Linked DNA regions of Homo sapiens: region 2 is linked to region 1. A link means that fine-mapping ties the variant in region 1 to the expression of a gene that starts in the linked region. Tissue or cell type: fibroblasts. Region 1 holds a variant in brackets; the other region holds the start of a gene. All regions are shown on one strand. Distances are from middle to middle.

Evidence for each region. PIP is the estimated chance that this variant, and not a neighbour inherited with it, causes the effect.
Region 2: SHQ1 starts here. The variant in region 1 is fine-mapped to the expression of SHQ1 in fibroblasts (GTEx, PIP above 0.99).

Annotation. Positions count from the first base shown.
Region 1 is chr3:72,723,292-72,731,396 of GRCh38, reverse strand. It overlaps a transcript of SHQ1 not described here. Among named protein-coding and RNA genes, the nearest start is that of SHQ1, 120 kb to the left of the region's middle. The variant T/G (reference allele first, on the strand shown) is at 4,769.
Region 2 is chr3:72,843,866-72,851,970 of GRCh38, reverse strand. It overlaps SHQ1 (SHQ1, H/ACA ribonucleoprotein assembly factor), which reads left to right and starts at 3,526. Exons shown (of 11, transcript NM_018130.3): 1 at 3,526-3,773; 2 at 7,548-7,612. The coding sequence starts at 3,631. RefSeq lists an enhancer at 3,208-3,307.

The sequences.
Region 1 (8,105 bases):
AGGATTTTTTAAAAAAACTTTTTAATGATTGAAAAGAATTTATGGAAATGTCTTTTCTCTTTTGTTATGTAGGTACTTACCTAATAGCCTTGATTCTGCCCCTTGGTCCATAAAACTTAGAATATTGTACCATCTGGACCTTTACAGAAAAAGGTTGCCAATCCCTGGTTTAAGAGAAGGGGTTTGTGAATACCTATCCAGTAGCATTTTGGATGCCTGGCCCATGGCTTCTGGGGTTTCCATGCCCTCCTGGGGGAGGCTGTGCAGAAAGCTGGGACAAGAGGAATGAGGCTGATACTACCCCGAATCCCACCACAGGGGTGGTCCCATGGCTCAGGTCTGGCCAATCAGAGTACCCTGTTCTTCTGGCCACAGTGATTGGTTCAGCAATAAGCAGGTGTCTCAAGCCTAGTCAATCAAAGTCCTCTTGGGGCTTTGGCCAGAGCTACTAGAAATGATACTTTTTCTGAGTTGGTAAGCTGGAAGGAAGCCATTTTTCAGAGGATGATTATCTTTGTATCTATGTGAGGAAAACCTTTCTGGAAAAGAAATTGCATATACCAGAAAGCAGACATGGAAGGAAGAAGGGAGGAAGAGAGAGAGAGAGAGAGAGATTGACACATTTGACATTGACAAGAGGCTGGATGAAGGTGTGTGTACTGCTGGTCATGAAGTGTCTTAATTCTAAGAGATGAAAGGGCCATTTTCGTCCACTGAAATAATAGGCATTATTTGTATGTATCTGTAGTGGCCAGTGACTGACTTCCCAGGAGAAATCGGCATCTCCAGGAGAGAAAAGTAGGGACTTCCTAGTAAAGAGTTCCCCAAGAACCAATAACAGTCACATGGCCCTACAGCAGAGGCATTTTAAGATGTCCGTTGGCTCTGGTTCCTTTTAGAAGCCTCTCCCACATTATATATCAAGTATCCAGTGTACCTATATCATATGTTTGTTAATGTAAATACATTTTAAAGAATTTTTAAACCTGGCACAGTGGCTTATGCCTGTAATCTCAGCACTTTGGGAGGCTGAGGCAGGGGATCACTTGAGGCCAGGAATTCAAGATCAGCCTGCACAACATAGTGATACCCCATCTCTACACAAAATAAAAAATTATCCAGGTGTGGTGACACATGTCTGTAGTCCCAGCTACTCGGGAGGCTGAGGTGGGAGGATCACTTGAACCCAGGAGTTCAGGGCTACAGTGAGTTATGATTGCATCACTGTGCCCCAGCCTGGGCAACAGTGAGACCCTGTCTCTAAAAAAATAAAATTTAGGGCCGGGCACGGTGGCTCACGCCTGTAATTCCAGCACTTTGGGAAGCCGAGGCAGGCGGATCACGAGGTCAGGAGATCGAGACCATCCTGGCTAACACGGTGAAACCCCGTCTCTACTAAAAATACAAAAAATTAGCCTGGTGAGGTGGCGGGCGCCTGTAGTCCCAGCTACTCGGGAGGCCGAGGCAGGAGAATGGCGTGAACCCCGGGGGGCAGAGCCTGCAGTGAGACGAGATCGCGCCACTGCACTCCAGCCTGGGCGACAGTGAGACTCCGTCTCAAAAATAAATAAATAAAATAAAATAAAATTTAATTTGAAAATTAAAAATAAAAAAATAATTTGTGGAATTTTGCTTTTGAACTTACTTGGCTATGAGTAGTAATTCCTTCACTGTATAATGCTATTGGCTGTGCTTTCTCATGCAAACTCAGGAGTTATTACAAAGTGAGGGAACCAACCCATAAATTGTGTTTAGATGTAATAAGATTTTAATGAAAACAAACTTAATGAACAAAGTGGACCTAGTGTTTTTTAGACATTTAATTAAGCATTTCTTCATTTCAATTTTGCATCTTTTTCTTTATTTCGAGCCAATGCCTTTTATTTTTTTCCTGGTCCTCAATGTGTTTGCAAGACCTGGAATTTGTGGCTATAGGCGTGTGTTTCCTGGTGGGTAATGCAGCCTTATCTGGACTGGTCGATCAGGAGGCTGGAGGCAGCACGAGCAGCGGCCCCAGGCTCCAAGAATCTTCATTCTCACAGGTCACATTGGCGATTTCTCTAGGGTGGAATAATCAGCTCAGCAGGGTCTGTGCTTAAGTTCGGAGGCCTGTGACTCACGTTGAAATCAGCACCTCCAGGTGAGGAAAGCCTGGGGTGGCTCAAAACCCAATAGGAGCCACTAACGAATCCAGGGGCAACCGTGACTATTTATGCTCCTGGCACACAAGTCACAAGATAAAAGCTCGGGGCCTCCCCTGGCATTGGAATCTCTCAGAGGTTTATTTGTTCATTCACGCATCAGTTTACTCAGCAAAGAGGAATCACGGAGTTGTTTTTCGTGCCCAACCTGGAGTGGAGGGAGGGGAAGAACAGATGGGACGTGAGGTTTGTCACCGTCACCTGGTCGGCTGGCTTCCTTGCACATTAACATTTTATATCTGGGCTCTCAGTAGCAGCGAGAATCCAACAACAGCATGGCACTGACCTGGTTCTGAGCGTCAAGGAGCCTCAGAGGCTTCTGCTTCTGGGTCCCACTTGGGCGTGGCCCTGTAGTGAACCCCTCAGGCCATTTGGGGGAAGAATGAGGAGGGACTTACACTGAAAGGGCACCTTCTGATCTCCAGGCACTGCATCTATGCTGTTGATTTGCTTCCTAACTTGTGCCTCAAGCAATTGCATCCCTTTTCCAGGTGAGGCAATGGAAGCTCCAGACAGGTGAAATACTTTACCCCAAGTCACACGGCAAGGAAGTGGTAGAGGCAGATTTGACTTCAGAGCAGCCGCACCCCAAACTCTGCACTGTTGGCTTCCATGCTCTTCTCCCTCCCTGAATTTTCAGGAGGGTTCAGAGTCTGTTGGTGGAATTTCTGGTATGCCTCAGATGTAGACTTGTTGCTCCTTTCAGATTAACTGTTTCTGTCCAAAGCCAAGAAGACAGAAGTGGTGGATGTGTCTATAGCTGCCTCGGGCCTCTAGTGCAGGGCAAAGATGCCCCTCAGAGGAGTCAGGTGAGGCTGAAATCGAGCCCACATGTCACCTACCTGTTGGTACGTGGTGTGGGAATTCGTCAGACTGACAGGAAAGGGTTGCTTGCCAGGCTCTGCACCCCTGAAGCCCCATCAACCCAGAGGGGTTCCTCTTAATAAATTGCACAAAAGCACCGCCTTGCTTTGGGTTTTCCTGGAAGCAGACTCCGAGGCAGATATTGCAGTGCAAATCCTTTTGTTTGGGAGGTGACTCCAGGAAGTACTGGTAAGAGAGTAGGGAAGTAAGACAGGGAGGGGAAGCAAAGCATTCACCGTGTGTTGCCATCGTGGACAACTAGACCACAGTCCCACTGGAGAGCCCTGGGGAACAGTAGGGAACATGCCCCTAAATTATCCCAGTGCCCCATCTTTGGTGATGGCTGCTTCCAGGGACTCCACGGCTTGCTCTTCACGCAGGCTGAGTGCACTCTCATGGCCAGAGTAATGCCCTCCTGAAGGATCAGGGTTGTGCCTGATGAACTGCTTGGGTGGCATGTGTGTGCTGATGAGCCGTGTTGGTTGCAGGTGTGAGCGGAGGTGATCTGGTCAGAATGGCAACAGCACCCATCCCACTACCCACAAGGTGAGCCTGACACCGTTACCAAGACTTCTGTCCTTCTGGATTCAACAGGCTCAAGAGATTGTCTGTGCCTCTTCTCCACTGTTTCATTAGCTGAGGTATGAATTTAGGCATCCACCTGTACCGTTGCCCTCCCAAAGGCTGACTTGCGATTGAAAACAAAACAAAACGCTTCTGAAAACAAAACAAAAACGCATTCTGCTCAAACACCATCCCAGGAAACCTCAGGACTTTATAATCAAGTCTGGGATCTGTTCCTAGCTCTGATGTGTGGCCATTTCCTTTGGCTTCTCTTCACTTTCTGCCTCTTTCTCTTCCTCCCCTTTGTCTTTAGAAGCCAATAAGGAAATCCACGTGTCCTGGCTTCTTGCCTTCCTGTTTTTATCCTGTAGACCTCCGGAGGGTTGTTTGGCAAGAGCAGGAGTGGCTGCCTTGGAACTGCACGAGGTTGGGTGGTGAGGCTTGGGAGGGGGCAGCCGCATGGGGTGGGGCTGCTTTGAAGCCATGTTTGTGTATGGTTTACTGATTGGGGGTGACGGGTGGAAACTACGGGGAGCCTCAAACCCCCCTTGGCATTGTCCCCAACAAAGCTGAATTCTTGCTATTGCTGAATCCCCAAGCCCCAGAACTCACAGCCCCGCCTCCATGGCCCTTCGTGGACCCCCTGGTTCCATGGTTTTGCTTGTTCTGGGGCTACATAGCAGACTTCAGTAAGAACTGGAGCAGGAGTTTGGCAGAGATGTCAAGAGTTGACTGAAATCAGAAACCTCCAGCACTAAATTGTGACTGTTTTAGTCTCTGTTCCTCTGACTAGACTGCTGCTGCTCCTTGGAGGCTTTCTGATGTGCCTTTCCAGTTACCCTTTACGATTTTTGCCTATAACACAAATAGCTCCGAAGGAGGCGCAGAACCCTGTTGCTTCATTTGGCACCAATGATCTAATGAGGTGGAAATCCCAGGGATGCTCTCAGGGGGCCGACGCAGTAATTGATATCAATTGGTGTGATTAGAGAAAGCCCTCAATCATCCCGAGGTGTCTCACTGCAATCTGTCATGGTCCTCATCAGATGAGCTTCGCCCTGAGCTTGTGCTGGAATGAGCACCGCTTTCCTGTATTCAGCCCAAAAGCCCAAATGTGGCCCGGCGTGGTGGCTCACACC[T/G]GTAATCCCAGCACTTTGGGAGGCAGAGGTGGGCAGATCACCTGAGGTCAGGAGTTCGAGACCAGCCTGGCCAACATGGCAAAACCCCGTTGCTACTAAAAATACAAAAATTAGCTGACGTGGTGGCATGCACCTGTAATCTCAGCTACTCCAGAGGCTGAGGCAGGAGAATTGCTTGAGCCTGGGAGGCAGAGGTTGCAGTGAGCCAAGATCACGCCATTGCTGATCTCAACCTGGGCGACAGAGCTGGTCTCTGTCTCCAAAAAAAAAAGAAAGGGCCTAACGTAAGCATGAGAGATACATATCTTACTGCCCTGCCCAAGAAGTGAGGACGTGCTTTTCCCACTTGCCTGGGAGGCGGCCTGGCTGAGAGGTCACAGGCCCAGGCTTAAAATCTGACTCCCTGGGCGGGAGTCTTTGCTATGCCTTTATAGGCTGGTGGCCTTGGAACAGTGACTTCACTCCTGGTGCCTCAGTTTCTTTATCTGTAACATATGGTGATAATAGTACTACATTTCTTTTTGGTAGAGACTGGATCTTAATGTTTTTCTCAGGCTGGTCTCAAACTCTGGGGCTCAAGCAATCCTCCTGCCTTGGCCTCCTGAGTAGCTGGGACTATAGCTGCATCACCCCACCCAGCTATCATATTACGTTATTAGCCCTCACACGATTGTTGGGAGGGTTAAATAATATGCGTAAAGTGCTTAGAAACATACCTAGTACATAGTATTTGTTAAGTAAATTCTCTTATTTTTTTCTTCTGCCCATTCCAGAAAGGCTCTGGGGAGTCTAACAGCCAGGACAGACAAAGAGCAGTAAAACAAATACTGAGGAACTCAAGAACCATGTGAGGTTGACACCTGAGGTATTACTTGGACTCTGTACTGCAAAGAACATTTATTCATTCAACAAGCATCTACTGAGTACCTCCGGTGTCCCAGGCACTGTGCTCGTGGCTGGGCTTACAGCTGTGACTTCATAGAGGTTAGATTTGAGTGTGTGCGTGTACACCTGGCATAGGTAAACAAGCAAGTCATTAAGATAATTTCAGAGTGATAAAGATGGTGAAGAAAATGAGCAGGACGAAGTGAAACGGAGGAGTGGGGTGGGGGCAACTCCAGGATGTGCGGTTGGGAAAGGCCTCTCTGAGGAGATGAGGGGACAAGAAAGAAGCAGCCCTGTGAGGCCCCAGGATGAGAACTTTCCACAGAGCGAGCAGCAAGTGCAAAGGCCCTGGGCTGCATGGGAGCTCAGAGAATCAGGAGGATAGCAAGGAGGCTGCCATGCTGGAGGAGAATGAGGGAAGAGAGTGCAGAGGCCAGTTTGGAGAGGCTGAATAAAGCCTGAGTGTGCGTGGTGCAGTGTTCAATTTTTATTTTTGAGGATTTATTTATGTATTTACTTGAGACAGAGGTCTTGCTCTGCCACCAGGCTAGAGGGCAGTGGTACCATCACGGCTCACTACCGCCTCGACCTCCCTGGGTGCAACTAATCCTTCCACCTTAGCCTCCTGAGTAACTGAGAACACAGGTGCATGCCATCTTGCTCTGCCAATTTTTGTATTTTTTGTAGAGATGGCTTTTTGCTATGTTGCCCAGGCTGGTCTTGAACTCCTGAAGTCAAGCAATCCGCCCACCTTGGCCTCCCACCATGCTGGGATTACAGGCGTGAGCCACCGCACCCGGTTTTTTGAGGACTTCAAACAGCAAACAACATAGTTTCCGTTACCAGTTAAAAAGTTTAGAAACCCAGCTGGGTGCGGTGGCTCACGCCTGTAATCCCAGCACTTTGGGAGGCCAAGGCGGGCGGATCACGAGGTCAGGAGACCGAAACCATCCTGGCTAACAAGGTGAAACCCTGTCTCTACTAAAAATACAAAAAAAATTAGCTGGGCATGGTGGTAAGCGCCTGTAGTCCCAGCTACTCGGGAGGCTGAGGCAGGAGAATGGCGTGAACCCGGGAGGCGGAGCTTGCAGTGAGCCGAGATCGCGCCACTGCACTCCAGCCTGGGCAACAGAGTGAGACGCCGTCTCAAAAAAAAAAACAAGTTTAGAAACCCAACTCAAGGTAGCTTAAACAAAAGGAGGGATATATTAAAGAACAGCAACAGTGTCTCAGGGAAGCCAGGGGGAGGAACAGAGCTGGGCTTGAAACTGGGAGGGCGATTTCTCCATCCCCATTGCCGGTTTTCTTTATACTGTTTGTGACCCAGTCCATGTTGTGGAACACAGCTGCCGACTACTCCTGAAATTTGTGAAATTGACTTCTGTAGTCTGGCATCTCAAGGGTGACTCATCTCTCAGTGCCAACACGCCTCAGGTAAGGACTCAGGAACTGGCTTGAGCCAGGAGTCCACTCCTGGACCAATCAGCTATGGCCAGGGTGGAATTGAGTCACACTCCACCTCCTAGTTGTTCTTAAGTAAGGATGGGGGCTGGGCACGGTGGCTCAGGCCTTCAATGCCAGCACTTTGGGAGTCCGAGGTGGGCGGATCACGTGAGATCAGGAGTTCGAGACCAGCCTGGCCAACGTGGTGAAACCCCTTCTCTAATAAAAATATAAAAATTAGCCGAGTGTGGTGGCAGGCGCCTGTAGTCCCAGCTACTCGGGAGGCTGAGGCAGGAGAATCACTTGAACCCAGGAGGCGAAGCTTGCAGAGAGCCGAGATCATGCCACTGCACTCCAGCCTGTGTGACGGAGTGAGATGTTGTCTCAAAAAAAAAAAAAAAAAAAAAGTAAGGATGGGGCTCTGGGCAGGGAGAAATAATTCTCAAAGAGGGGAATGAGGGAAGAGTAAACAAAGGATCTAAGTTGCCAGAAAACCAGAAACTAAAGAATGAATGTACCTAGAAGCAAGCTCAGAATTTAGCTCTGAGCTTTGTGGTAGCCAAAGCTTTAAAAAAAAGAAAAAAAAGGAAAGAAAGAAAACAACGAATAAGCATCTGAGTTCTGATTGGCTAATAAAATAAGGCACAGCAGATCACGAGGAGAGAGAAGCATTTTCTTCCATGAAAGCTGAGAGGACATTCTTTAGGTTTCTATGTGGAAGGGGACTAAGAAATACAATAAATGACTCATTCAGCAACAGTTGAATTTAGATTTCTGAGATGATTAAGTTTTTCACAATGTGTGGGGAGTCCCTCCTGGTGAATTCTGAAAGTAGAGGGGACATTATTAAATTTCAGTGCAAGGGTAGGCAGGGTGTGTTTGAGGGGGAACCAAAGTCATGCTCATTATGTTTTCTTTCGATGACCTCATTGGCTCTTGGAGACCTCAGTGCCGTGGTAAAAAACTCAGGGTTTACCTACAGGACTGGGGAGAGGGGTGTGGAGTGGGT
Region 2 (8,105 bases), 120 kb before region 1:
TCTTTTGCCTCACAGCCTTCCGAGTAGCTGGGATTACAGGTGGTGCCACCACACCTGGCTAATTTTTTTGTATTTTTAGTAGAAACAAAGTTTTCCCATGTTGGCCACAGCAGTCTCAAATTCTTGACCTCAAGTGATCCACCCGCCTAGGCCTCCCAAAGTGCTGGGATTACAGGCATGGGCGACCGTGCCCAGCCTGTAATCCTATATTAAGTGAAGAAAGCAAATATAGATTATGACATTCTTTTGTTGAAAATACTTCCCATACTTTTATGAATAGGAGTCTGAAAAGATGTATGCCAAAATAATAACAGTGGTTAAGACGTAGTTTGCAAATACTGTGTAAGATTCCACCACCTCCCCAAAATGGCTCAGAGAATGAACTAGCGCTATAAACAACTTATTCAGGAAGCTATTTTTCAACATAGGTTAAAGCTCCATTCTTTGAGATAACATTGTTTTAATCACCTATATGCATGCCACCTTCTGGAAACAAGGAGTATTTCACCATTAAAAGACTTCTAACAATAGAACTTGGTAATAAAGCTGACATTGGAATTGTTTATAAAAACCATTTTTAATTTAACATTTAATTTGGAAGCTTATGGATCACAATCAGGGTTGTTAGACCAGAGGAGGGGCCAATTTAATATAATGAAAGATGATAGGTTACACACTTGTCCTACATAAGTTGGTCATGGAAAAAACTTTATCTTATTATTTTATTTCATGTTCTCTATAGGCCAGAAGGAAAAACTATTTTTAAAACAGTGGAAGGCCATTCAAAAGTAAGCTTTCAGAAAATGAAAAGATAAAAAACACTGCAACATTTGAATGCTCAAAAATGATGAAAAATTGCATTCCTGTTTTCCCCTCTAAACCAGAGCTAATTTAAAACATTAAAATAATGTCTTTATTCTCAAGCAATGTCTGTATTCAGAAATAGAAACTCAATTTGATCTATGAATCAATATAGCTATGTCTCAAAAATGAACCAAAGTAGGAAAAAAAGCATGTTGCAGAATTACTTTCATAGTGTGAGAATGTGCCCATATAAAGTGGGTCTAAACACAAAGCAACAGGGTCCATAGAAATGGATGTAGAAATAGAAAAGGGTCTGAAGTGATAGCTAGGACTGCCTTTGAGGAAGCAGGAGAAAGAACCAAAGTTGCATGGCAGCCAAAAGGAACTTTATGTTCTTAAGTGAGAATGAATCTATAACTTATATTTACCACTAATAGAAATGCAAAAATAAGAGAACTATTGCCTGCAAGAAAACAAAAACCAACAGAAACCCAAAACAACAAAACCTTGTTATATACTTGAAACTATCCGTATTTTGTGATTTAGCAGATGCAGTATATATTTCTTATAATGACGGCAGCACTGAACCATGTTGTCTGTTTTCCTGTGTTGCAGTCCTGTGTGTGTGTGTGTTGCCAGACACATAATAAAGTACCCAGGAAATGCACAGCTCTAGTTTGCAAAGTGCTTTCAATTAGAATTTCCTCATGGATAGCATAGCTTGTTTCAGTTGATTCTCTGGCATTAATAATTTAAAAATATTAATGCTTGTGACCTACAGGAATGAGGTCCCATGGCAGATGTAAAGATTATTTCTTTTTTTTTTTTTTGAGATGGAGTTTCACTCTTGTCACCCAGGCTGGAGTGAAATGGCACAATCTCGGCTTACTGCAACTTCCGCCTCCTGGGTTCAAGGGATTCTCCTGCCTCAGCCTCCTGAGTAGCTGGGATTATAGGCACACACCACCATGCCTGGCTAATTTTTGTATTTTTAGTAGAGACGGAGTTTCACCATCTTGGCCAGGCTAGTCTCGAACTCCTGACCTCAGGTGATCCACCCCCTCGGCCTCCCAAAGTGGTGGGATTACAGGTGTGAGCCACCGCTCCCGGCCAAGATTCTTTGTAAAGAAGCTAATTTGGAATAGTTTAGTCACAGGCCTATCTCAAGGGACCTTTTGAGAGCTTTATTAAATCAAAGTTGGCATCAATTCATTGTCAATATTGAGTGCCTATTACTTGTAAGGCTCAGTATGGTCTAAAGCAGGCAGGCTTGGCTTTAGAATGTGAAACAAAGTAGGTGGTAATAACAGAGGGAGTCAACTCTGTAATAGTGTAGAGCCTGGGCCTAGGAATCAGACTCACCTGGGTTTCAATTCCCATTGCACCACTTACTAGCTGTGAGATCCTGTGCAAGCCAAGGGAATATATAATGCCTACTTCATAGAGCGGTCAGGAGGGAGAATGAGATCATTACAAAGGGTTTGCTGCAGTGCTGGCACATAGTAAATATTCAGTTAATGTTAGCCCCTGTTACTATTAATTTTTTTTCTGAGTCCTAATGAAGTTTCAAGAATGTCTCCTTAGAATCATAAAACAGCTGGAGATTGAAAAGACTTTTGAAGTTTTCTGGTTATCTCCACTGTCCTAGGAGAGTACTTTTCATCCCTTTTCCACTGATACTTAAAACCACGGAATAAATACCACAACTGGATTATTCTAATTAGTGGTGGAATAACAGGAAACAACATGTGTGGAAAGGCCAAGGGAATATGTGGGGGAAGAGGGAAACCAGCGGGAGAGGCACTGAGAGAGTGTAAGGGGCACACTCCAAAGGGAGAAAATACAAGGAAGACAAGTAGAAAAAAAGACAGAAAAGATGTCCTCAGACAAGTGTAAGGACAAGAGTGAGAAAAAGGAAAGAAGGGGAATACAGAGGGACCTTAATTTGTGAATGCAGTCACCGACACGGTTTAAGAGTCAAACGTTCTGAGTTCTAATTACTGTAAAATGCATGGTTATAAAACGTACTGATTAACCTCTCTGAGCCGTTTTCTTTAGAGTTTGCAGCGTAGATTAGATGAGATTAGCGGGACGGACGCTCTGTTAAAGAGAAAACTCTTCAAATAAGCCGTTAAGAATGAGAGAGAAAGCTGCAGAAAAAGAGAAGTGGAAAGAGAGAGGGAGGAAAGGGAAAGTGTAAGAGGAATTGTTCACAAGGCAGGTGAGAACTAAGGGAAACCACTGTAACGGTGCTGCTGTGGCTACTGCGGTGACTACTTCAGCACATCAAGCGTTGACAACTTGCCAAGTTCGTTATTAGAGTTCTACATGCACAATTTCATGCTACCCTCACAGCATTTCTATGGGGCTAGGTTCTCGCATTATCCGCGTTTTACAGAAGATATAGAGAGGTTTTGTAACTTTCCCAAGGTCTTACAGCTGAGAAGTTGTGGCCAGGAAGGGATTCAAACGCACGTCTGTTTACCTGTCAAGCCAGTGCTGTTAAAATCATCTCTAAGAACCTCGAAAAAGGCTCGGTTGCTAGTCATCCCGCCGGTTCAACGCCGGCTCCCAGGCACCACTCGCCACGCCCTTTCTCCGCCCGGGGGTTTTGAAAGTTCCGCCTCTTCTCGAACGGCGTCCCGTCTCCATGGAGATTGGCGTGGGGAGAGACTTCCTGCCTTACGCGCGAGCACTTCCGCCTCGAGCCGGAAGCTCCGTCCCTCACACCGAGAGTTCCTGCGCGTGGGGAGTTGGAGAGTTTGCGTGGCGGGAACGCGGCGGCAGTGAGAGCGAGCGGCGCCGGCCCTTGCGTCCGGTGCGGCGATGCTGACCCCGGCGTTCGACCTCAGCCAGGATCCGGACTTCCTGACTATCGCCATCCGCGTGCCCTACGCCCGGGTCTCCGAGTTCGACGTCTACTTCGAGGGGTCTGACTTCAAGTTCTACGCCAAGCCATACTTTCTCAGGCGAGTTCGGGGTGCCTGGCCGCAGGAAAGGCGCATTCGTTAGATAGCTGCTTTAGAGGGAGAATGCAAGGTCGAGAGAGCAGTGCTCGATTGCGCGAATGCCTTTTCCCGACGTTTCCGCAGCTTCTCTTGGTGCCAGGGAACTGCCCTCTTCCAGGGGTGCGTTTTAGATGCTGCGGAAGCCCTTTTCCTTCTTGAGCTTTCTTAAATCCCATATCAAAGGATTGCGGAATCACTTGAAAAAGTGACGTTTGGACCGTGTCACTTTCCCGTTTCTGCCCTGTCGCCCTAGTTCTCGTCCCGTTCTGACTTGTTCTGTTCTTTCCTTTCACTCCGCGTTTGCTCTCCCAGTCTCTCCCTTCCTGGGAACGGCGCGCGCTGACATCTCCGTGACTTCCCAACCCGTCGGTCCTTTTAACTTTGCCCAGGCCGCCTTCTGTTGATCTATCTCTTGTCTGTCCGCTCCCTACTTACCGAAATTCTTACCTTTTTTGGACCTCTTGACACCAAATTAGCCTAGTTCTCCTGCTTCCCTGCTGTCTGCTGCTCTTCTGTTTGGTTTTGTCCCTGAAGTGTGGTTGTTTCCCCCAAGTCTCCGTGAGGGTCTGTCAGCACTTGATCTGTTTAAATTATTCTCCTTGCAGAATCGTAACCTTGGTAGCAGCTAACACTGATAACTCGTAGTGTGGTGGACAAGCAGTTCCGTTAAGTGCTTTATGATGGTGTATCTCATTTAACTTTGACGGTGATCCTTAGGGATAAGCACTGCTATTAACCCCATTCCACAGAACCCGCTGCTACATATTCATCCTAAAGTATTGCCAATCTCTTGTCCTTCTCTTTATCCATCCTCCTAATCTTTCTGAAGTGTAGCTGCATCCTACTTTTCCCACCCAAGTACTTTTGTGGTACAAACCTTCTCCACCAGTCAAGGTGGTTTTTTCACTGTTGCTGAACCAGTTTTGCTCAGATTTCCCTTAGACCATATAACGTCCGTATTTGAATTATTGCACTTTCCAGTTTTTTAATTCACTTATTTCTTTAATTTATTTATTGAGTTTCAGTGTTGGTATTATTGTGCTGAACAAGACAAAGTCCTGCCCTCATGTACTTTTCACTGGGGAGAGGAAAACAATAAACAGTGTACTTAATTGTGGTGAGTGCTATGAGGAGAAAGAAGTGCACTAATAGAGAATGAAAAAGGGCCCATGTTTTATAAAGTGGTCAGGAAAAGCCTTTCTGGGGAGGCGATATTTAAGCCAAGATGTGAAGAATAGGAAGAAGATTATGGTGGTAGCAAATATTTATTGAATTTTTACTCCAGGTTAGTGCTTTATACGGATTATCTCATTTGTTATTAGGACAGTGTTACAACGAGGCTTTATTATTTACCCGTTGCCGTGGATGGATTATTTGTGGGCACCCCCCCAACTCTTGTCCCCAAATTCATATGTTAAAGGTCTAATTCCTGTGTCACTTCTGCTTTATTGTATTCATCAAAACAGTCCCAGAGCCTGCTGAATTTTAAGGGGAGGGAACATAGACCTTCATGGTTGGGAAGAGTGCTGTGAGATGGGCATTCTTTGATAATACAGTTTGCCCCCAGATGTGGTGGCTCACTCCTGTAATCCCAGCACTTTGGGATGCCGAGGTGGGCAGATCACTTGAGGTCAGGAGTTTGAGACCGGCCTGACCAACATGGTTAAACCCCATCTGTACTAAAAATACAAAAAAATTATCTGGGCTTGATGGCACGCGCTTGTAGTCCTAGCTACTTGGGAAGCTTGAGGTGAGAGAATCGCTTGAACCTGGGGGGCGAAGGTTGCAGTGAGCCAAGATTGCGCTATCGCACTCCAGCCTGAGTAACAGAGCGAGACTGTCTAAAAAAAAAAAAAAAAAGAACATACAGTTTGCTATACCAAGGATGAATAAAACCTGGTCCCTCTCCTTGAAGAATGGAGACTGTAGCTGCGGAGGCCCCATGTAAGCAAATATAATTTTCTCTGCAGTAAGAATTTAACTCTAGGCTTATAGAGTTTAGGGGAAGGGAGCTGGTAATAATAGCTCACATTTTCTGAATGCTCACCTGTTGTGCCGGCCACTAAGCTCTTTGCATTATCATTTCATGCTCATAGTAACGCTTGGATAGTTACTGTTATTTCCCCCCTTTACAGAAGAGGGATTTATGATTCTTGAAGAATAATTAACTTGTACAAAGAAGGTTGTTACACATCTGGTAAATGGCAGATCTAGGAGTTAATTCAGATTCTGACACTAAAGTTAGCGTTTGTAACCATTATAACAAACTCATCCATAAACTGACCCCTTATTCTGGCTTAGAGGGATTTTCATTCTGAAAATGTATTGAAGCTTGAGGAAACCTTGGGATTAAAGGTCCTGGGCCTTTTGGGACTGTCAGCTGTTTTTGTTTTTAATCATATTTAGTAGGAAACAAGGGGGAGGGCCATGGGAAGAAAGGAAGCTCAAATTTCAAGTTTGGAATGATATGGAGTGGGCCTGATATGCCCTTCTGATAAGTTTAAATTATCTAGGCAACATGAGGCAGCCATAGACACTTTTTAAAATAGAAAAGTGACAATTAGATTCCTGTTTTAGAAAAATTATTTTGGAGCCTCAGTGGAAGACTGATTGAACTAGGGTAAAACTGGAAGCAGGGAAATCACTTCATTTCTTTTTTCTTTTTTTTTTTTTGGACACAGAATCTCACTCTGTTGCCCAGGCTGGAGTGCAGTGGCAAATGATCTCGGCTCACTGCAACCTCCCCTTCCTGGGTTCAAGTGATTCTTCTGCCTCAGCCTCCTGACTGGCTGGGGTTACAGGTGTGCACCACTATGCCTGGCTAATTTTGTATTTTTAGTAGATATAGGGTTTCTCCATTTTGGCCATGTTGGTCTTGAACTCCTGACCTAAGGTGATCGACCCACCTCGGCCTCCCAAAGTGCTAGGATTACAGGCGTAAGCCACCACGCCCAGCCAATCACTTCATTTCTTTTAGTACAAAAGAGGGGTAAATCCCTACATAATAATGATGAGATTTGACACTTTTGCTTTCTGCTTTTTTTTTAAAGTAGTAATTTGCCTGATAAAATCAATTGGTTTTGTGTTTCTTTATTGTTTCCCATTGAGTATCCCTTATCTGTACAGATTGAGTGTCCCTTATATGAAATTTCAGATTTTCTAGAGTTTTGGAATATTTTTGCATACATAATGAGATATCTTGAGGATGGAACTCAAGTTTAAACACAAAATTTATTTGTTTTATATACACCTTATACATATAGCCAGAAGATAGTTTTATGTAATTTTTTAATACTTTTGTGTATGCAGCCAAGTTTTGACTGCTTTTTGACTGTGACTCATCACATGAGGTCAAGTGTGGAGTTTTCCACTTTGTGGTGTCATGTTGGTGCTCAAAAAGTTTCAGATTTTGGAGCATTTCAGATTTTCAGATTAGGGATACTCAACTTGTGTTATAACAATAGTGATAACTACTATTTATTATGGCTTTTCTTTTTCAGTATCTATTTTGTTGGTGACTAGGGGTATTCAAATAGAAAGATGAGTCATCTCTAATTTCTACTTTCTTGGTTGGGGAAAGAATCTAACTTAGTTTATTAAAATGTGAAAGAAATACTGAGGAACTTCTTAAAAAATGATTGATATATTTTGATGGTTAAATGTTTGCAAGTATTGATGGCCACTTATGTTACGTTATAATTTAAGGACTTCATGAGACCTGTGTTAAATCTGCAGATTAACCCTTCCTGGAAGAATTGTAGAAAATGGAAGTGAGCAAGGGTCCTATGATGCAGATAAAGGTATTGTCTTTGGAATTTTTGTTAGTTTATTTCTTGGGATTTTTCACATTATTTACATAATAATCTTACAAGATACCATGGGGACCTTTTGATGTCTTTCAAATACAATCTGTTCCTATCACTCTTTCTTGTTTCTTAGTGTCCAGTGCCTGTTATTGATGTTCCCCACCCCTCACAAGTCTTTTAAAGTATTTCACAATGTTCTTCAAAGTAAAGTTAACTGCTCCGGTTCTATTTCCTAGAGTACTTCCCCTACATTTAGTAGACATTTAAAAGTAAAAATTAGAACATGTGAAATGATTGATCATAAAAAATGTAGATGACTTATGAGCTTATGAATGGAATCTTTCTGGTATAATTTTCAAACTTGAACTTTAATAACAGGTAGGTGAGAGAGAAACTATGCATGGGTGGCATTTAAAGGCTAATTGAATTTTCTCCTCATGATTGATAAGCCCTTCATTTCAGCTAGCCATGAACCCATTTATTTTTC